Linked DNA regions of Homo sapiens. The protein of the gene in region 2 purifies or fractionates together with the protein of the main gene of each other region. This does not show direct contact. Each region holds a gene or a part of one and is shown on either strand. Other genes may lie near its edges. The genes, in order: APAF1 and AVEN.

The links.
Region 1: the proteins of AVEN (region 2) and APAF1 purify together in Homo sapiens (affinity purification with western blotting; one study listed by BioGRID and IntAct). This does not show direct contact.

The regions. Positions count from the first base shown.
Region 1 is NC_000012.12:98,662,266-98,666,089, reverse strand, and holds part of APAF1 (apoptotic protease-activating factor 1), read right to left. Parts: intron 3,635-3,824; coding exon 3,522-3,634; intron 3,416-3,521; coding exon 3,284-3,415; intron 1,040-3,283; coding exon of another isoform or gene 1,011-1,039; exon of another isoform or gene 732-1,010; intron 538-731; coding exon 299-537; intron 1-298. UniProt on the Homo sapiens protein: Oligomeric Apaf-1 mediates the cytochrome c-dependent autocatalytic activation of pro-caspase-9 (Apaf-3), leading to the activation of caspase-3 and apoptosis. This activation requires ATP. Isoform 6 is less effective in inducing apoptosis.
Region 2 is NC_000015.10:33,871,470-33,875,293, reverse strand, and holds part of AVEN (cell death regulator Aven), read left to right. Parts: intron 1-3,824. UniProt on the Homo sapiens protein: Protects against apoptosis mediated by Apaf-1.

The DNA.
Region 1 (3,824 bases), on a different chromosome or scaffold from region 2:
TGAGTAAGAATGTCTCCATTTCTTAAGAAGAAACTCAGCTACTCCTCAAGATAGAAAAGAGAAAGAGAAGTCAGATGCTTCTTCAGCTGCACTAGAACCACAGAAATAGGTTAACTCCTGAGTTCAACACAAAGCCCTTAATGGAAGCTAACAGCAGAGGGATTTCTACACCCAACACCCCACCACCTCAGTCCCCTGGGTCTTATCCTTCCAAGGTTCTCTGTAACAACATGCTCAGTACTATATCAAAGCTTACATGCAATAAATACCCAATGATGAGGATCATTGATCCCATTACCTTTGTAGGCACCTTAACGTCCTTCTGAAGGATGGAAAGATCTGTGTAATAATCTTTGATGTCTTCTCTGAGCATTTCAACACTTATAGACATGGCTTCATCTAGAGCCTCATAATCATAAGACGAAGATTTCCTTATTCTCTTAAACTGCTTATTCTGAAGCTGTTTGAGGTAGTACTCCCAGCGATTGGGAAAATCACGTAAAAGTGCACCAATTAAAGATACTACAAGGGGAGAGCCTTTAAAAAAAAAATGAAGTCACTATGCTAATACCATCCTATTTTGTCACTAATAAGAATCGACTTACTTACTTACATTACTAAGAAACAATTTCTGCTGCATGTTATCAAAAGCCTTAAGTATTTATCACTCTTGACTTCACTTCTAGATATTTATCCCAAAAAAAATTAGAAATAAGAAAGATTTCATTCAGTAAGTTCCTGATTATCTTTATTAAGTCAAAATAACATAGATCAAATCTGGCTAAGATGTCATTACAAAAAAAAAAAAAAATATATATATATATATATATATATGCGCCAGTCTAAGCAATATAATGAGACCTTGTCTCTACTAAAAATAAAAATTAGAAAAATCAGCCAGGTGTGGTGGTGTGTGCCTATAGTGCCGGCTACTTAGGAGGCTGAGGTGGGAGGATTGCTTCAGCCCAGGAGGTTGAGGCTACGGTGAGCCATGACAGCACCACTGCATCCTAGCCTGAGGAACAGTGTGAGACTCTGTCTTAAAGAAAAAGAAAAGAATGATTAAGTTTAAGGATATTCATCACAGCACACTTAGAATAGTGAAAAAATCTTAAACAACGTAAACAATGTCCAATAATACAGAAGTGGTTGAATAAATTAAGATATATCAATATTATGCCACTGGTAAATTTTTTTCAAAAAAATATTTAACAACATGGGAAAATGCTCAAGATATAGAAAAAGGGTAAGATCCAGCTGGGTGTGGCGACATGTGTCTGTAGTCCTAGCACTTCAGGAGGCTGAGGTGGGAGGATTGCTTGAGGGCAGAAGTTTGAGACCTGCCTGGGCAACATAGTGAGACCCTGTCCCTACAAAAAAATTTAAAAATTACCCAGGTGTGGTGGTGGGTATCTGCAGTCCCAGCTATTCAGGAGGCTGGGGCAGGAGGATTGCTTAAGCCAAGACATTCAAGCCTGCAGTGAGCTGTGATCTTACTGCACTCCAGCCTGGGTGACAGAGCAAGACCCTGGCTCTTTAAAAAAAAAAGGGCAAAATCCAAAACCACATATACATAATCTCAACTTTTTAAATCTTTGTTCTAAAAGACTGGAGGCAATACTCTCATGATGCTAATAATTATCAGGTTATGGATAATTTCTATTTTTTTTTTAGTTTCACACATTTTCAAAATGGACATGCATCACCCTTTGTAATAACTACAAATTAAGCATTTTTTCTAAGTGTAAGATTTCTTTAAAAATTAACAAAACTGGCCACGTGTGGTGGCTCACGCCTGTAATCCCAGCACTTTGGGTGGCTGAGGCAGGTGGATCACGAGGTCAGGAGTTCAAGACTACCCTGGCCAAGATGATGAAACCCCATCTCTACTAAAACTACAAAAATTAGCTGGGTGAGGTAGCACGCACCTGTAATCCCAGCTACTAGGGGGCTGAGGCAGGAGGATCACTTGAACCTGGGCAGCAGAGGTTGCAGTGAGCAGAGGTCGCACCACTGCACTCCAGCCTGGGCGACAGAGTGAGACTCGTCTCAAAAAATAAATAAAATAAATAAATAAATAAATAAACAAACAAAACTGTGTGTCTATTTGATGGCAGAATGAAAAATAAGGTGGCCAGGTATGGTAGCTCATGCCTATAATCCCAGCACTTTGGGAGGCTGAGGCGGGCAATCACCTGAGGTCAGGAGTTCGAGACCAGCCTGACCAACATGGCGAAACCCCGTCTCTACTGAAAATACAAAAATTAGCTAGGCATGGTGGAACATGCCTGTAGTCCCAGATACTCGAGAGGCTGAGGCAGAAGAACTGCTTGAACCTGGGAGGCAGAAGTTGCAGTGAGCCGAGATCACGCCACTGCACTCCAGCCTGGACGACAGAGTGAGACTTGTCTCAAAAGAGAAAAAAAAAGAAAAAGAAGAAAAATAAGGTATTTCCAAGCATAACAATAATGAAAGAAATAATTTTAAGAGTTGATAGATTTGACTGTTTAAAATTTTAAGCTTCTATATGTCAAAAGAATACAACAAATAAAAGGTACACAAAAAACTGGGTAACAGGCTGGACATGGTGACTCATGCCTGTAGTCCCAGTGCTTTAGGAGGCTAAGGCAGGAGGATCATTTGAGGCAAGTAGTTCAAGACCAGCCTGGGCAACACAGCGAGATTCTATATATAAATTTTAAGTTAAAAAATTGTTTTACTGGGAAATAATACTTGTAAAAATATGACAAAGAGCTAATAGTTTCTATTTTTTGAGTATTTAGAAATAAATTAAAAATACTTATATCAAAAAAGAAAAGTGAGTCAAGGATAATTTCTTAAAGTCAAGGATAACTTCTTAAAACGTATTCAATAAACAAGTAAAAAGTTTAACTTCGCTAAAAAAAAATGCAAATTAAGACACCAGTTTTTACTTACCAAATTAGAACACTATTTTTATAAAATCCCAAGCAAAAACAAGTTTTAAAATCTGATTCTCACTCTATTTTTAACTCTAACAGCAGAGGTCACATCTGTGTCTCACTTCTCTCACTAATGTGGTCTCTAACACACTGTGGGTAGATGGTAAATATTATTTTAATGAATAAATAAATACCATAATATCATGTATCCATTTAAGATATCAGAGAACCTAAAATACTAAATCTCCCAGAAAAGTTTTTGGATGTTCATGTGCTAAATTACCATATTCATTAGCTCAATTAACAAAAGGGAAATTATATAACTCCCTATAATCTCCTCATAAACAAATAAATAACCATACCTTTACATTCTTTTATAATACTATGAGCTTGTTCTGGCAAATCTGCCTTCTTCATATTAACAAAAAGGGATAAAATTTCAAGTCCTTTTTCCTTTCCTAAGGAACTCTCCACAGGGACTACATATTTAGGACCTGCAAACAAAAATCACAAGACAAAGTAAGTAATTTGGTATGTCACATATTTAAATGTAATTAAATTAAATATAAAGGTACTAAAAAGTAAACGAATAATCCTTACCCATTACTGAATCTGTAACACTCTTGTCTCTGGTTGTAAGAAGAATCTGACACTGACTGTCAAAAGCTTTCAACACCCAAGAGTCCCAAACATCATCCAAGATCAAGAGAGACCTAATTTAAAAAAAAAATATTAATCACTAATGACACTTATCTTAAGCTTCCTTTTAAAAAGATAATCCCACCAGTGTCTTTTAAAATCTACCAAATTAAATTTTTTTTAAAACAAATAGATGGCTAGATCTAGGAAAATGATTCTTCCTCTTTGCTATACTCTTCTCAATATGCTGATTCAAATAAGGAA
Region 2 (3,824 bases):
GTGGTGACTTGTGATATGCTCCCCAACTCCAGGCCTAGAGCATACTGTCTGATAAACTGATTACCATCTGCCCCCAGCTTCAGAGAGGTGGCTGAAGCTGCAGACCCGAAGCCCGTAGGCACTGTCCTCCCTGTTCTGCTCCCACATCAGCGTATGTGCTGTGGGTGGCTCGTTTGATCTGTGGGCTGGTTTTAGGCTCAATTGTTTGGGATGGCCTTTGACGCATACGGATTACGAGGAGGGGAGTCTCTTAGAAAATGACTGCCTGGCACTTTACAAAGAACGTGTTATATATGCCATAGAAAAAGGTGAGAATTACAAATATTTGTCTTTGCTTAAGTCTGGGCCTACGCCTGAGGTACTGTTTAGTATTCTAGGACACATCGAAGATAGATTGTTGAGGAATATGGTAGAAGCCGAACAATTTACATTTCATCTCCTTTTGAACCATACTGATTACCAAAGAATATTTCAAGTAGCTTCAGAGTTTCAAATAATTCTAAGCTTCGTCATTCATCAAAACATAGAGCACTTGTTTACTAAATGTTTTTATTAAATGGAGCTTATTCAAAGTGAATGAGACAGACCATGCCTGTTCATTGCTCTAAGCCCCTTACCTGGGCACACTCGGTGACCTGTAGTCTGTAGTATGGTAGATGCTCAGTAGATATTTACCTAATACATGAAAAAGAATACAACCTAAAATAAGGGGTGTGATGAATGAATTAACAATACTGAGAGAGATAGCTACTTTGCACTGGAAGTGATTAGAATTGGTACCATGGGGAAAAGATCATTTGAACGGGTCTTGGTGGACAAGTGTGACTCTGGTAGGTCCTGTCTGAGGAAACAACATGAAAATGGTAAGATCAGGAAAACGAGGTTATGCTCAGAGAAGGGTGTGGCCAGAGTGTAGTATTCCCAGAGGAGGAGGCCTCAGGGGCAGGTGTGGGCTAGTTAGTACCAGCAGTTTCAGACCTGAGTGTGAATTCTAGATCTGAGACTTGGGCAAACTTTTTCCTTCTCTATTGCTTCACCTGTAAAATGGAGGTAATAACAAAATATAACTCAGAGTTATAAGAAGGACTAAATTAGATAATAAATAAAAAGCCCTTGAGTGCAGTTCCTGATGCATATGAAACACTCAAAATGAGCTCTTTTATTACTAATATTATCTGTTAACAAAGTTTTGTTTAGCAAGAACATGGAAATGGTTAGATCTAACTTCAGCAGTATTGGGAAGGATGGGGAGGGATTGAACGGATGAGATGAGAGGTTAGAGGCAGGGAAACCGATTAGGAGGATGTGATGTTGGACGAATGGGAAAGAACGAGAGCCTGAGAGGGTCAGGCAGTGAGCGTGGGACAGGGGTTACTCATAGACAAGACTTGAGTGGAGGATGGGGTCAACTGTGCTCACTGGCCAGATGTGAGACACAAGGACAAGAAAGATTTGCAATGGCACTATGCTTTCTAGCTTGAGTAACTAGGTGAGTGGTGATGCCATGAATGGAAAAAAATAAGAGCAGAAAGAAGTTAAGTTTGATTTTGAACAGTTCGAGTTGGAGGTGTTGGTAGGACATGGCTGAAACTGAATTCATTTCACCATCAAAACGATTTCCTGTCTGACTTAACTCCTCACTAAATTTTCTTCCTTGTTGATGTAAGAGAAAAAACTGGATATATATAATATATAATACGTATTATATATAATTATATGTAATATATAATACGTATATTATATATTGAGTGCATATATATAATATATATTATATGTTGAGTGTATATATATATTATATATTATATATATGTACACACACACATATATGTAATTTGTTGTTCCTTATACCATCCCATGTCCTCAGTGTGACCAGTGACGCAAGACAATAGAGAGGGGGCGGGCGCAGTGGCTCACGCCTATAATCCCAGCACTTTGGGAGGCCGAGGTGGGCAGATTACCTGAGGTCAGGAGTTCGAGACCAGCCTGGCCAACATGGTGAAACCCTGCGTCTACTGAAAATACAAAAATTAGCTGGGCGTGGTGGGGCACGTCTGTAATCCCAGCTGCTTGGGAGGCTGAGGCAGGAGAATCGCTTGAACCAAGAAGGCGGAGGTTGCAGTGAGCCGAGATCGTGCCATTGCACTCCAGCCTGGGCAACAGAGAGACTCCATCTCAAAAAAAAAAAAAAAAAAAAAAAAAGAAAAGGAAAAGTAGAAATATGTTTTGTCTTTGCAGTTAAAGGGAGTGGGAGTTTGATAGGGAGACATGTCCAAAATCCTCAAGGGAATCCTGGCAGGAGAGGGACCGGGCGTCACGGCTTGGACTTGGCGTTCGTTGCTCTGTGGCTGATACGCAGGGTGAAGGGACACAGGTCGGCGGTCAGGGTGCTCTGATCTAGCTATGTTGGCCTCCATGACCACAGGGGTGTCGGTCTCTTAGATCCACAAGTGGGATTCTCATACCTTTCCTTTGGACAGGGTGGGTACCATGTAAAGAGAGGATGAGTGGGAAGGTAATTTCCCTGGGTGAACAAACAGATTTATTATTTTTTAAATCACCTAAGTTTTTAAAATTCCACATTAAATTTCTGTTGACATGGTGACTTATCCAGTAGGACTTCCTTGGGCAATATACTGGCTGCTGAGCAAACTGCTGGCTGCTGAGCAAACTGCTGGCTGCTGAGTGATATGCGGCCGTTCCTGAGGGCCTGGCTTTTAAAGGCACAGATTCCCGGCTCCCCCCACGCCACCCAGAGAGTTCAGTTCTGTGGGTGAGGCCTGTGAACCTGTATCTTAAAAAGCTGCCCAGCTTATTACTCCACCATACCATGTACACATGGTCTCTGGGCCCCAGGCTCATATGGACAGTAATTGCTGTAGATTCTGAGGAGGATGTAATAGTCTGATTGAAGGGTATGTTTTTTAGCTGCAAAGTGAAGTATATAGCGGGTTCTTTTCTTACTAAAGAGTGTGCCTTTATACAGATACTGGACACTCAGAGTCTTATGATTCCTGGCCAGAGAGGAAGCTTCAGGCTTGCAGATTCTCAGCACACAGACAGGGTCCTGTGCACACTGATGGCAGAGAAGTGGGACAGAAAGGCTTTGTCCTACAGTCAGGACTGGCTCCCCTCTCCCCAGCACTGGAGTGTCTCCTTTCTCTTTACACCCCACCCCCATAGCATCCTTAGTGGGTGTTGTCTGCTCCTGTCTGCAGCCAGATGTCGTAGGCCAGGCCCTCTACTTCAACTGCCAAGTGGCTGCCAGGGTTGACCAGGCTGACATGGGAGCTGGGTTACCCAGGCAAAAATAATGCACCGAATACTTTAAAACATGTACAAAATGCTGATTTATTATTATTCCAATTAAACCTATTTTTAAAATTCACAGTTTAGTATTAAAAGCAATTCACTGCAGCTAACTTTATATCTAAGGCCTTCTTCAGCTTTAGCCCTTTATGGGGCAAACTGGTGACCAAAAAAGAAAGCCTTCTTACAAAGTGGCTTTTTTTTTTTTTTTTTGAGGAGACTAGCTCGTTTGAAACCTTCGCAACACCTGTCAGTCCCTTCTCACTGCCTAAATAGCCCTTTCCTCTTCTGAGGCCAGCAGTCTGAATTTAGAGAAGAGATCAGGTTAGATTTCATTAAATGCTTGCTTTTCTTTCAGCTTGTCAGTCATTGCAAAAGCCTCCACCGTTTCCAGGTTACTGGACAGTCTTTTTTTTTTTGAGATGGAGTTTCACTCTTGTTGCTCAGGCTGTTTTGCAGTGTTGCGATCTCGGCTCCCTGCGGCCTCTGCCTCCCAGGTTCAAGCGATTCTCCTGCCT